Linked DNA regions of Homo sapiens. The protein of the gene in region 4 purifies or fractionates together with the protein of the main gene of each other region. This does not show direct contact. Each region holds a gene or a part of one and is shown on either strand. Other genes may lie near its edges.

Evidence for each region. The genes of interacting proteins can lie anywhere in the genome.
Region 1: the proteins of DNAJA4 (region 4) and RADX purify together in Homo sapiens (affinity purification with mass spectrometry; one study listed by BioGRID and IntAct). This does not show direct contact.
Region 2: the proteins of DNAJA4 (region 4) and TIPRL purify together in Homo sapiens (affinity purification with mass spectrometry, with the first as the bait; one large-scale study listed by BioGRID). This does not show direct contact.
Region 3: the proteins of DNAJA4 (region 4) and ACOX3 purify together in Homo sapiens (co-immunoprecipitation; one large-scale study listed by IntAct). This does not show direct contact.

The regions. Positions count from the first base shown.
Region 1 is NC_000023.11:106,639,478-106,642,977, forward strand, and holds part of RADX (RPA-related protein RADX), read left to right. Parts: intron 1-49; coding exon 50-210; intron 211-336; exon of another isoform or gene 337-419; intron 420-1,074; coding exon 1,075-1,244; intron 1,245-3,500.
Region 2 is NC_000001.11:168,195,962-168,199,285, forward strand, and holds part of TIPRL (TIP41-like protein), read left to right. Parts: intron 1-585; coding exon 586-681; intron 682-2,957; coding exon 2,958-3,020; intron 3,021-3,324. UniProt on the Homo sapiens protein: May be a allosteric regulator of serine/threonine-protein phosphatase 2A (PP2A). Isoform 1 inhibits catalytic activity of the PP2A(D) core complex in vitro. The PP2A(C):TIPRL complex does not show phosphatase activity.
Region 3 is NC_000004.12:8,371,224-8,374,723, reverse strand, and holds part of ACOX3 (peroxisomal acyl-coenzyme A oxidase 3), read left to right. Parts: intron 1-211; exon of another isoform or gene 212-656; intron 657-1,095; coding exon 1,096-1,163; intron 1,164-3,500. UniProt on the Homo sapiens protein: Oxidizes the CoA-esters of 2-methyl-branched fatty acids.
Region 4 is NC_000015.10:78,274,562-78,278,061, forward strand, and holds part of DNAJA4 (dnaJ homolog subfamily A member 4), read left to right. Parts: exon of another isoform or gene 1-539; intron 540-936; coding exon 937-1,167; intron 1,168-3,500.

The DNA.
Region 1 (3,500 bases), on a different chromosome or scaffold from region 4:
TATCATTTCAGTTCTTTAAAACTTACAATTTTCTTGGACTTTTTTGCAGTTGAGTCGCTCTTGACAGCTATAAGTGAAGTCAGGAAGGAGATTGAAGACTTGCAGTATAGGGAACAAAAGCGCATTGCAATTCAGGGGATAATTACTGCTATAAAGTATATCCCCCATAGCAGTGCGACTGAAAGTGCCTCAGCATCAGAAACACTTCGGGTATGGTGCCAGAGAATTAATAGTATTTCTCTGAAAGCACTGTGATTATGATTGCAATTGGTACCTTTTACATTTTATTCAGAACTCACGTGTATTGACTCTTAATAATGTAAGCCTAAGAGAAAACATTAGGTTGGTGCAAAAGGCATTGTGGTTTTTGCCTATAAAAGTAATGGCAAAAACCGCAATTCCTTTTGCACCAACCTAATATTTTTACTTTTTTGTTTGTTTCCTTTTTGTGTCATTTATTTGGGGGCAGACTAGGCCAATAATGATTATAGCCTCTTGACATTTCCCAAGGCCCTCAAAACTTGGTATCCTGTTTTTGCATTCTGTGTAATTTGAGGCTATTGTGGGTGTTTTAAATTTCTAGGTGGTATCTATGACTATATTAATTTCCTACCTTTTGTCCAGGCCAGTACTACAGGAAAGCTTTCATAGGAAGTTTTCTCTATATCTGGCATAGTAGTCTTACCCAGGTTCTATAACTCTTCTAGAATAAATAGTTTAGTATTATAGAAGATGCCAGTTCTGGAATATTGGCACAATCAAGACAAGTTAATTTTTCCCATGAGTTTATCTTTTTAAACACTACGTCCAGGACTACTACTATTTATATGGAAATAAGTGTTTAATCCAGCTTTTCAGATAGTAGTATAAGAAGGACTTTTGTTTGTCTTCCTTTTAAAAAATATTTTAATAGCAGATGGATTAGATTCAATCATTTTCATAAAAGCACTGTTATGATTGAAGTTTTGCCAGAACTGTTGATTATGAAAAATGAATACACTAAAATTGTAGTCTTTTATGAGATTAATAATTGTGAATTAGCCTAAAGTGTTTTCTCTAAATTATTGGTTTTAGAATGCTAACAGACCCTCGACCTCTCAAGCAGCTAGAGTAGAAATTCAAGAAAGAAATGGTAAACGGCATCAAGATGATGAGCCTGTGAATTCTCAGTATTTCCAAACTACATCTACAAATTTAAGTCTGAGCAATAAAATAAGAATTCTTCAAGGCCCACACGCTAATCCGTAAGTCATTTGTATTAAGTATATGTAAAGTATATTTTTTCTTTTGGGTTATCTCTACCCTGTAAAATAAGCAATTATCGTAGAAGCTGTATTAATTTGTTAGGGCCCCCATAACAAAATACCACAACTGAGTGACTTAAACACTGAAATTTGTTGTCTCAGAGTTCTGGAGGATAGAGTTCAAGATCAAGGTGTCAACAGCATTGGTTCCCTCAGGGCTGCGAGAGAGAATCTGTTCAATGCCTCTCTCCTAGCCTCTTAGGGTGCTGGCAATCTTTGGCATTCCTTAACTTGTAGAAGCATCACCCCAATCTCTGCCTTCATATTCACATGGAGTTCTCTCTGTGTAATGTCTGTGTCCAAATTTCACCTTTTTCATAAGGATACCACTCATATTGGATTAGGGGACCACCCTAATCCAGTATGACGTCATCTTTATCAGTAACATCTGCTATGACCCTATTTCCAAATAAGGTCATATTCAGAAGTCCTGAGGGTTAGGACTTCATCATATGAATTTTGTGGGGACACAATTTAACCCATAAGTCTGCCCTCTGGTCCCACAAAATTCCTGTCCTTCTCATATGCAAAATAGGTTCACCTCATCACAACATCCCCAAAAGTCTTATCCCATAGCACCATCAATTCTAATCCAAAATCTCATCTAAATTTCATATGGATGTAATTCATCCATCCATGATCATGGTGATTTATCCTGGGGCAAAATTCTTCTGCATCTGTATACCTATAAAATCAAACAAGTTATCTGTCCAGAATACAGTGATGAGATAGGTATAGGATAGACACTCCCATTCTGAAAGAGAGAAATTGGAAAGAAAAGGGGGATCATGGGTCACAAGCAACTCCAAAACCTAGCAAGGCAAATAAATTGCATTAGATTTTAAGGCTTCAGAATTATTCTCTTCGCCACAGTCTTATGTCCTCTGGGCTCACTGGGGTAGCATCCCCACTTCTACAATCCTGGGTGATGGCCCCACACTCTGGAACCAAGGAAATGAACCCACCCTCTGGAATTGAAAAGGGAGCACTTGTCCTCTGAAACCAAGGAGGTAGTCTCACTCCCAAGGTCATTCTTCCATTTTCCTGAACAACAAGAACATTATAGCTTACATTTGCTTACCAGTTGTTTAAGCATGGGTCTTTACTACAAAACATTCATACATTATGAATTGTACATGATTGGAAGTTTTGGTTTCTTTAAAGTGTCAGGAAAGCCCAAACACTCATAAAGCAGAGTGCAGAATCACTTTAGATTTTAAGATTTTAAAAATTCCAATCTTTTAGAGTGTGCCCGGGTGCACAGCAGTTTTTGGTTGTGAATAAGTAATAGGTAAAATTTTTAATTTATTTTTTAAAATTGTTTAACTTTTAATTTTTGTGGGTACATTTAGTAGGTATATATATATTTATGGGGGTACATGAGATGTTTTGATACAAGCATACAATGTGAAATAAGAATGTCATGGAGAATGGGGTATCCATCCCATCAAGCATTTATCCTTTGTATTACAATCAAATTACACTCTTTTAGTTACATTTAAATGTACAATTAAGTTATTATGGACTATAGTCACTCTGATGTGCTATCAAGTAGTAGGTCTTATTCATTCTTTCTAGCTATTTATTTGTACCCGTTAAACGTCTTCACTTCCCCGCACCCCCCTGCTACCCTTCCCAGCTTCTGGTAACCGTCCTTCTAAACTCTACCTTTATGAGTTCACTTGTTTGATTTTTAGATCCCACAAATAGGTGAGAACATGGAATGTTTATCTTTCTATGCTTGGCTTATTTCACTTAACATAATGATCTCCAGTTCCATCCATGTTGTTGCAAATCACTGGATCTCATTTTTATGGCTAAATAGTACTCCATTGGGTATATGTATCACATTTTCTTTATCCACTCATCTGTTGATGGACATGTAGGTTGCTTCCAAATCTTAGCTATTATAAACAGTGCTGCAGCAACATAGGAGTGCAGATATCTCTTTGGTATACTGATTTCCTTTCTCCTGGGTGTATACCCAGCAGTGGAATTGCTGGATCACATTGTATTTCAATTTTCAGTTTCTTTGAGGAACCTCCAAACTGTTCTCCATAGTGGTTGTACTAATTTACATTCCCACCAACAACGTACAGAGTTCCTTTTCTCCACATCATCACCAGCATTTGTTATTGCCTGTATTTTGGATTTAAGCCGTTTTAACTGAGGTAAAATGGTATCTATCCACGGCTT
Region 2 (3,324 bases), on a different chromosome or scaffold from region 4:
CTGATTCTGCCTATCATTAGTAGTTATACTTGGAAAGCAGAGGAATTTGTAGATGTGCCACAGATGAAAGATGTTAAGAATGTGTTATAGTGTTCTGATAAACCAGGTCTTTAGCAATATGTAATAGTGCCTACAGGTTGCACTGAATTAGAGCATTCTGTGTAAGGTCTGTTGCTTTGTTTTATGTAAAGTGAATAGGTGAGTAGTGACAAAGAACTAGGTTGTTCTTTCATTTTGGTTTTATTGGTGTTGACATTTACTATCAGTACCTGCCATTTTTTGAAATAAACATTATAATTTTTACATTACTTGGGTATGTTTTTAAGTCTTTTAAACCTCAATATCTCCTCACCTAGAAAAAATATTTTAGGAAACCGAAACTATGATGTTAAATAGTTTGCACAAGGTTTTGAGGCTAGTTGGAGCTAGGACAAAGAGCTTCTAGTTGAGAGATTTTTATAAACTGTGAATTCAGCCTTATTCCAGGGTTTTTTTGTTTTTTGTTTTCAAATTTTTTCTTTCAGCAAAGTAATAAAATGTTTAATTTTTATTAAAATATTAATGTACCTTTTTTTTTTTTTCCAGAGAGTAATGCCTTCTAGCTTTTTCCTGCTGTTGCGGTTTTTCTTGAGAATTGATGGGGTGCTTATCAGAATGAATGACACGAGACTTTACCATGAGGTATTTATTGTTGTTTAATGAATATACTAATTGATACTGGGCTTGTTTGTGTTGTTTAATTGTCAATCTGAGAATTTGAAATTAAACAATCTATATTATATGGCAGTCTTTCTAACTGTTAAGTCTGAGTGTTTCACATTCACTGTTGACTGCAGGCTATCATCAAAACATTACATTTCCTTTTACAAAGGTTCTGGTGACTCAAAATGTTTTCTAAAAGACACTCCCTAATTGGGGAGGGGTCTTTTGAGACAATTTTGTATGTACTTAATCCATGTTTAAGAAAACTGTCCTTTAACTCTTACCTTTGTTTACAGTATATGTTGTTTATGTAATGTCCTGATGTACATTAATATACAGGAAGTACATTAATATATTAATCAGGCCAAGGCCGGGCGCCGTAGCTCACGCCTGTAATCCCGGCACTTTGGGAGGCCGAGGTGGGTAGATCACCTGAGATCAGGAGTTCGAGACCAGCCTGGCCAACATGGTGAAACCCTGTCTCTACTAAAAATACAAAAAATTAGCCAGGCATGGTGGCACGGACTTGTAGTCCTAGCTGCTACTTGGGAGGCTGAGGTGGGAGGATTGCTTGAGCTGGTGAAGGTTGAGGCTGCAGTGACAGAGCAAGACCCTGTCTCAAAGAAAAAAAAAAAAAAGAAACATACCTAAGTTATACAGTTAGTAGGTGGCAGAATTGGAATTTGAACCTAGTAGGATAGGATTGGATTGATGCTTTCTAAACCCTTCACTTAGGGATTTTTTCTTGAAATAACATGGTTATAGTGATAGACCTTTTTTCTTTTAAAAGTGGTGGCAAAGTACTAAACATAAGCTATATTTTTGTTCCCCAGAAAGAGAAATCTAAATTTTATTTTTATTTATTTATTTGAGATGGATGGAGTCTTGCTCTGTTGCCCAGGCTGGAATGCAGTGGCGCGATCTTGGCTCACTGCAACCTCTGCTTCCTGAGTTCAAGCAATTCTCATGTCTCAGCCTCCCTAGTAGCTGGGATTACAGGCGCCCACCACCACACCTGGCAATTTTGTTGTTGTTGTTTTTAATGGAGTGATGGGGTTTCACCATGTTGGCCAGGCCGGTCTTGAACTCCTGACCTCAAGTGATCCAATTGCCTCGGCCTCCCAAAGTGCTGGGATTATAGGCGTGAGCCACACCGCTCCTGGCCTAAATGTTAAAAATACTGTTTTAATTAAACAATATTGAATTTTAGGAATTTATCCTAAAAAGATTCTTTTATATAATAATCTACTAATATTAATTGGGCAATTACTCAGAGTTATACGTACATGAATATTCACAGTAGTATTGTTTATAATAGCAGAAAGGAAGGAAAGTAGGAACTTAATGCCCATTAAATGGCCATTAATTAAATTGTTTATATCCATATGGTATAAAATATATAATTATTAAAATTGGTTGCAGAGATTGATATTTAAGTAATTTTGAAAGATATTCATTTCAGTGTTGAACTTTCAAAAGCAAGTATGAATCTACTTACATAAGATTCTCTGTAGAGATTTCTAAGTATTAAAGATAGTGTTACCTATAAGCTGTGATCACTGATGATTTATACTTTTATATTATTTGATTTTTTTCCTACAGTGACTATTAATCTGTTTTTATTAATACAAGAGAGTGAAACCTTAAAGGCATATAATTTTGTGGCTTTTCTTTTATTGAAAAGTGTTTCAAGAAGTAAATTATAATAAGTTGCTGTTCTAAAACCTAACCAAAAATCTTAAATGGGAAAAATTGAAGTACAAAAAAGGTGATTTTAAGTAAGCTATTTGGTAAGAGCTTTATGGAATGGGAAAGAATAAAAATTTTAAAGCATGTTTTGCAACATAAAAGTAGCACAATTACGTAGGTAAATGATAAGATAGCTTAAGGGAAAGATGTTTCAAACTTGAAGTAATTTTAAAATCTCTTGCATATTTCATTTATACAAATTCATTATATACATTATTCATTTATATACATATTCTTTCAAAGTAAAATCTTTGCTATGTTTCTCTTACATGGTAATTATAAAATCTGTTTACATATGTGTATCATCATTATAATGTATAGAAATTGGAAATAATAATCCAATTTGAGTTAAATAGGAGTTATCTCAGTGTAGAACAAGATGTTCTCTTTAGACTGCATGCTGTTTTGACAACCTATCCTAAAATGTAGGCAGTCTGTTTTTAATACAAAGGATTTTGTAAATCAGTATAATTAAATTTATTGCAACTGTTTATTTTTAAATACAGGCTGACAAGACCTACATGTTACGAGAATATACGTCACGAGAAAGCAAAATTTCTAGTTTGATGGCAAGTACTTAAATTTCAGTTTTTAGAAGTTAATTTTAATGTTTCATTTTAATTTAAGTAGCATATACCCCTGACCCCAACCACCCAAGTTTACATCCCTAAACCCATTCATTCACCTAATGGGGCTCTATAGGATAAATTCTATGGGAGCATAACTTTTCTGACCTTACCTCAAATACAAGAACATTTAGAGCTGCTAGGTACTTAAGCCTCATCTAATCTAATTTTCACATTTTGTTCTAGAGAAATTGAAACCCAGAGGTGTGACTTACTCTGAGTCACATAGCTGGCTGGTGATGGATGT
Region 3 (3,500 bases), on a different chromosome or scaffold from region 4:
CTCATGCCAGGCAGCCTGCCGGGCTCTGCAGAGAGCAGAAGCCCACCCACTAGGTCCCATAAGGCACAGACAGACACGAGCCAGGAGTGCCTAGACTTGGGAATACTGGAAGGCTTCCTGGAGGAGGGGGTGCTGGGGCTGATTCCTGGAGGATTGGTGGGAATAGGCTAAACCAAAGTTTGTCAACTTTTTGTTCGTCTTTGCCCCCCAGGAAGCTTTTTAGGTGGTTTTTCCCAATGGCTGGCACCCATGCATCTTTGGTACTAGGATACACTGCATATCCATTCATGTCCTGTGTCTCTGGGCTTGTGAAGAATAAGATCCTCCCCACCCCAAGAGCCAGCGTTTACCCCCTGGAGGGTGGTGCTGACCCCGTGGAGGCCTTGACAGTGCTCAGGTGCACCAAGGAAGGGACACAAGTGTCTGCCAGAGAGGGCGGGCACAGGGCAGGAGCCCCACTGCTGCCTGAGAAAAACCCTAAGTGATGAGACACAGTTCTCTCCAGCGGAAATCACAGCAAACGCAGATCCCACCACAGATGTGCTCCCGAACGCACAAGGCCACAGCCTTGGACCTCTTAGGGCCCTGCCAGAAACCACAGCGGCTGGAGGTGACACCAAGGACCAAGTCCCCCTGCGGCCTCTGAGTCCCTGCAGGTGCCCACCGCCCCCAACTCCCCTGGGTGGTCCCAGGCACCCCCTCGCCCCTGCGCCCCCTGCCATGCACCCCTGCTTCACTCTGCCCAGGAGCCCCTTCCTCACTTTCTCCCGAGGAAGGAACCCGCCCAGCCTCCCTGAACCCCAGCAGGTATGAGCCCAGCGGCCACCTGTCACCTCTGAGCCTGGGACCTTGCCTCCCTCGCTGCCGCGGGCCAGAGACCATCAATGCCTGAGTGGGAAAAGGGTCTCAGAACTCGGCCCCTGAGCAGCACATTCCTTGGGTCACATCTGGGCTGGGGACAGCAATGACACTGATGTGTTCACCCAAAACAGGCCTCCTATATGGCCGATTTGGAAAGTGCACTCAGGGCATGTTGGTATTGGGGGTGGTTTTGGACTGGACCCAGCCCCCATGTGACCGAGGCTGTGCTTGCAGGAGGATACTTCTCCGGTGAGCAGGCGGGAGAAGTGTTGGAGAGCGCCGTCCTGGCTTTGTGTTCCCAGGTGAGCCGTGGGTGCTGTCGCGTTCTCTACATCCATGTTACACAACCGCCCAGAGCGACACGCATCCCCTTAGCATCACCCAGACCGACACGCACCGCCTTAGTATCACCCAGACTGACACGCACCCCCTTAGCGTCACCCAGAGCCTACACGCACCCCCTTACCCAGACCGACACGCACCCCCTTAGCATCACCCAGAGCTGACACACACCGCCTTAGCGTCACCCATGAGCCGACACACACCGCCTTTGCAACCCAAACATTCACGTGTGTTCAGTGTTTAGTAAAAACTGTAGGATTACAAGAAAATATGGCTACATCAGAAATTTTTGCAAAAGAAACCTGTCGGGGCGTCTCCAGATCTGCACACACCCAGGCCCTCTCACACACCTTTTGCAGCTACTTTGAGAATTCTCTGAGCATTCGGGGGACTCAGCCTCCAATTTAAATTTGTTTCCTGGCAGTTTCCTTGTTTATTATATTCTTTTACCTATGTCACCCAGGAAATCAGAGGGCCCCAACCCCACATTCTGATCCGGCATCTCTCTTCCATCCGGGGACAGAAGCTGCAGTGCTGTGCTGTTTAGCACGGCAGCCGCTGGGTTGGGGGAAGGCGGCTGTGTGAGTGAGGGTCTCCGATTTCCTTTCATTGCACTGATTTTGAGGAGCCACTTGTGCTGGTGCTGGTGCTGCTGCGGTGGGCAGGGCCACTGTGTCCGTGGAGACGTCATTCCACTTTTGCTGCTAGGAACTGGACTGAGTGCTGCTGCATTTTAGCACAATGTCTCAGGTGACTGCAGACGTGGCCTTTCATCTCCCCTGTCACTGCTTTCACACTTGATCTGGGACCAGTGGAACGTCCCTGTGACTGGCTCTGAGCCTCTCTCGGGATTCGTTGTATAAAGCCCTTCCCTGAGCCTGCGGTTCCAGAGAGGGGCGTGTCTGATTGTGGCGCACGTATGTGGCCACATTTACTCGTCTTAACATCGAACTGGCCACAGGGAGGGGTTTTCCTTGGCTCCTCCAAGAGCCAAATTTTACCCCCTTGGGGCAGTGTTGACCCCATGGAGGCCTTCAGAGTATGCAGGTGCACCAAGGAAAGCACGGGGGTCTCCTCGCCAGAGAGGGGGGCATAGCGGGGAGGTGTTGTTGATAAAAAGTGTCCGGGTGTGGTGGCTCATTCCTGTAATCCCAGCACTTTGGGAGGCCAAGGCAGGAGGATCACTGGAGGCCAGGAGTTCGAGACCAGCCTGGGCAACGTAGTGAGACTTCATCTCTACAAAAAATAATTTTAAAAAATTAGCCAGGCTTGGTGGCACATGCCTGTAGTCCCAGCTGCTCAAGAGGCTGAGGTAGGGTGGCTTGAGCCCAGGTGTTCGAGGCTGCAGTGAGCCGTAATTGCACCATCACACTCCAGCCTGGACAACAGAGCAAGACCCCGTCTCAAAAAAATGACAGCCACAACTGATTTCCCAGTGAGGCTATGGCCAAGGCTGGATGACCGTTGTGTGCCACTCTGTGTGTGCCCATCCATACCACTGTCTTGGGGAGGCCAAGGTCAGCCAGGTGGAGAAGTTGCCAGCCATCCACTAGACCAGGGCCAGCAAACTCAGTCCAATCCTGCCGTTCACCTGAGTGTCGTCTGTGGGTGCCTTTGTGCTTCCACGGCACAGTAGGCAGTTGCCAGAGACCGTGGCCCGCAAAGCCGGTAACATCTCCCACCTGGACCCTTACGGAACACGTTTGTCGGGCTCAGCGCCTGTGCTCTGCCGAGAGCTTCTCTCCGGGAGCAGTGGCATTTGTCTGCGGCCTCTGTGCTGAGGCACGTGGACCAGGACCAGGTGGCCACGCCCTGCAGAGCGCGGCGCTGAAGCGCAGAGGTGCACTCAGTTCCTCCATTGTGGCCTTTCTTACTCTGTACTGACTGATTGCCTTTGATCCATATCATTAGCGGTGTCTCCCATTCCTGGGTTCTATGCAGTGTAGCCACGGCATTTCATCATATTTTAAGGATAATTTTTGTTTTGCATCTTAAGAAAATTCTTGAGAGTCCACTCATATAAATTTCATGTGTCATATTGAAGAATAATTTGTCCAGTGGAATGGGAGAGTAATAAAACCACCGCCAACCGAGGAGGCTTCATATGCTTATGGCTTTTCCAAGTGCTCATAAATGCCTTCTCTATTACATGTTTTCTGAACATATTTTCCTTTACTGGAACAGCAGTTGCCCAGATAAGCCAAGGCTTAGAAACGAGCCTCTGAATGCAGTTGCTAATTCACGAGCTTCAGGGTCGTCACTTTTAAGGGCCTTTTCTACCTTGTTGGGAAGAAACA
Region 4 (3,500 bases):
TCCCAGTCTTCTCTTCACCCTTCCTGGCCTTATTTCCATTCCATGTCACCTGCCAAAGTGTTCTTGCTGAGGTTTACTTCCTTGAGATCACAGACAGCCTCTTTATGAGGTTTTCTAACGCTCTGAAAGTCTTACCTGGCCTTGGTTTGGGTTAGTTGCCATCTCCTGACATTCTCAAGCCATTCCTCTAGAATCTTTCGGAGTGTCTTCCTGGTCGCTTCTGATGCTCATTGGCCATAAGGGCTTGTGTAAGTGTTTGTGGCTGCATGTTCCCTTTCTCCACATTTCCCCATGTGCTGCATCAGATTCCCCCAAATACAGCACCTTCTCCTGCTATTCATTTTGCCTGATGCCATCATTTTAAGGCCTTTTTCCATTTTAGCTGTCCTCCAAGTATTCCGATGATTCTGTGGCTTTCCAATCCAGTAAATATATCCTAGATCAGAGATGAGACCAAAAGTAAAAGAATCAACAGCCAAACCGACACAGGTGTTATTAAAGGACTTACTGTTTAAACATGCCTAAACCCTGTGCCTTGAGTGTGCAAGCTGACTTATTAGAAAAGGACAGGGCTGGCTGACCTGTCCCTATCAGTCCCAAGTCATGCACCCTGTGCCCCGGGAAGTGGGCGGTGACCCTATGCTGGTGGTGTGGCATCACAGGCCCTGGGCAGGGAGTGCTGTGTAAACCTGGGATGTAGAGCCGCATTCCCCCACTCCCTGTGCATGCTGGGCTTGGCCCCACATTATGCCAAGGGAAGCGGGACCTCTTCTGTCATTGGCCATCCTAGCCACCCCTCCCTGCCTTGTGCCTGCATGAGGTTGGGAGACTTGATGAATAAAGAATCCCTGAAGGACTCTGTTCCTTCTTCAAAAGCTTTAAGGAAGCATGGTTTGTATGAGAAATGGCTAATCAGAAAGGGATGATGTTTCATAGGTATGAAAGATGGGCAAAAGATACTATTTCATGGAGAAGGAGATCAGGAGCCTGAGCTGGAGCCTGGTGATGTCATAATTGTGCTTGATCAGAAGGATCATAGTGTCTTTCAGAGACGAGGCCATGACTTGATCATGAAAATGAAAATTCAGCTTTCTGAAGCTCTTTGTGGCTTCAAGAAGACGATAAAAACATTGGACAATCGAATTCTTGTTATTACATCCAAAGCAGGTAATGTTTCAAAGTGTGTTTCCATTGATGTTCTGTATGTTTGGCATAATAATTCTGGCAAGTTAGCCTGATTTTTTTATTGCTACATAATATTTTACATATTGATGGGGTGCATGTGATACTTTGTCCCTTGCATAAAATGGGTAATGATCAAGCCACGTGTTTAGGGCATCTGTCGCCTTGAGTATTTATTTCTTTGTGTTGGGAATAGTTCCCCTGATTTCACATTTAAGGTCAAATTCTGTTACACAAATTAGTATGATGTGATTTTCTCTAAATTTAAAACTGTCCCTAATAACTCTGGATAATTTATAAAGTTCTTGTATATTCTCCTAGAAAAAATATTCAGTTGGGGGGAAAGTCTCAAATAAGAATCTTGGGGCTCTGAATTTTAGATGAATTCTGGCAATTAAACTTAAGTTTTTAAAAATTTATTTTTGTATAAGAAAACAGCTTAATAGGTGGTGTTTTTCTATCAAGTGGTGATTTGTGCTGATTCATCCACATGTTCCTGTAGCCTCTGTTGTTCATTACATGAGTTACATTTTAAAATAGAATTTTCCTGTAAGAAAGACTTTGCCTATCAGTTTATCCTTGGAGGTTTCCACAGGAATTGCTGGTCTGCACACACCCATGGGAGCCAGAGGGAGATGCCTCTAGGCCGAAAGGGTTCCTGAGGCCTGAGCTCAGCCCCCAACCCCCCTGTAGACACCAGGGCACTCATCTCCCAGGAGGGTTGGTGTGTTCACTGTAGTTGAGGGTTTGTGTGGGCACCAGAGCACCTGCCTAGAAGGGGCTGAGAAGGGAGAGAGGCCAGGCCAGGGACCTTGACTTGAAGCTGCTTCTGAATAGCACTAAGGTCAGCTGTGCATAGCAAAGAATGTCTGGATGGGTGTGGTGGCGGCTACGCCACCGAAGCAGCCTGGGCCCCAGCACCAGCCATTTGCAGTGTTGCTGTAGTCCCCTCACTGGCCGTGGGGCTGGGATTACCTTTTTCTATGGCCATTTGAGGTTTGGTGCAAAAGGGGTAGGTTCAGGGCAGGCAGGGAGGTAACCACCAATAAGCCTGCCCCCAGGGCAGTGGCAGCTGGAGATAAGACTCAAGTCTGGTGGGGTGACTGAGGCCTGGACTTCTGTTCCCTCCGTGTCCCTCTCCCCCTTCCCCTCCTTGTCTGCTTTTCTCTTCCCAGCCTTGTGCTCTTTTTCTCTTTCCTCTCTTGGATTCTTTCAGGTTCCTCCTTTCCTGGGGATAGTAGGAAGCAGAATTATATATCCAAGCCTTGATCGGTTTGTGGAGTTTTAAAATAAACTTATTTGGAAACAATTTCAAGCTTACAAGAAGTTGTAAATATAAAAATAGTCCGAGGCCCATCCATATATGATTTGTCTGATGTTAACATTTTACCCCATTTGGTTTGTCATTTGATCTGTGTCTGTTTTTATTTATTTTTAAAATTTGTTCATTTATTTTTTGAGACAGGGGTCTTGCTCTGTCGCCCAGGCTGGAGTGCAGTGGCGTGATCTCAGCTCGCTGTAACCTCCACCTCAGCCTCCCGAGTAGCTGGGACAGCCACATGCCACCACGCCCATCTAATGTTTGTACTTTTTGTAGAGACGGGGTTTCGCCATGTTGCCCAGACTTGTGTGTGTTTTTATACATATACTTAATCCAGGATTGGGGGAAGCACTGCAGTATAATGCAAAATTTGCATGAAAATTTAAAATAAAACACCTTCCCTTAGGCTTCCATAGACCTCCCAAGGCACCCATTTCCTCCCTCAAGGAGGAGTTTGAGGATCACAGTTTACACGAAGCTCCAGACCACTGGTTGTGAGCTCAACACCCTGGCATTGTGTCCAAGATGCCCTTACGTGGTCACAGCCCAGATCCTAGCCCTCCTGAGCCGGGGCTGGGAAGCATCTGTGTGTAACTTCTTTGGGAAAGCCTGTCCTGTCCAGGGGTGGACTATTTGAGGTCCTGGGCCCCACCAAGAGCCAGCGTTCCTTGCTGTCTCAGCTGACCCCAGCCTAGGGAGCCGGGAGCCAAATGGAGTGAGGGTGGTGGAGAAAGAGCCCCAGAGGGAAGGAAGTGGCAAATCCCAAGAAATCCATTTCCTTCTTTATTATAAGGAAGGGTGGAGCATCCAGGAAACCTGCCGTTGGAGAGTTCTTTGGGGATTTGTTTGTCCTTTTTGTTTTGTTTTTGTTTTTACTTTGTTCTCTTTTGCACCCTCTCTTTTCTTCACCCCTCTTTTGTGTTGGCTTATTTCTTGTTTCTCCATTTTCTCTTCTCCCTCTTCTTCCTCTTTTCTGCTGTTGAAATGCCTTCTTCCC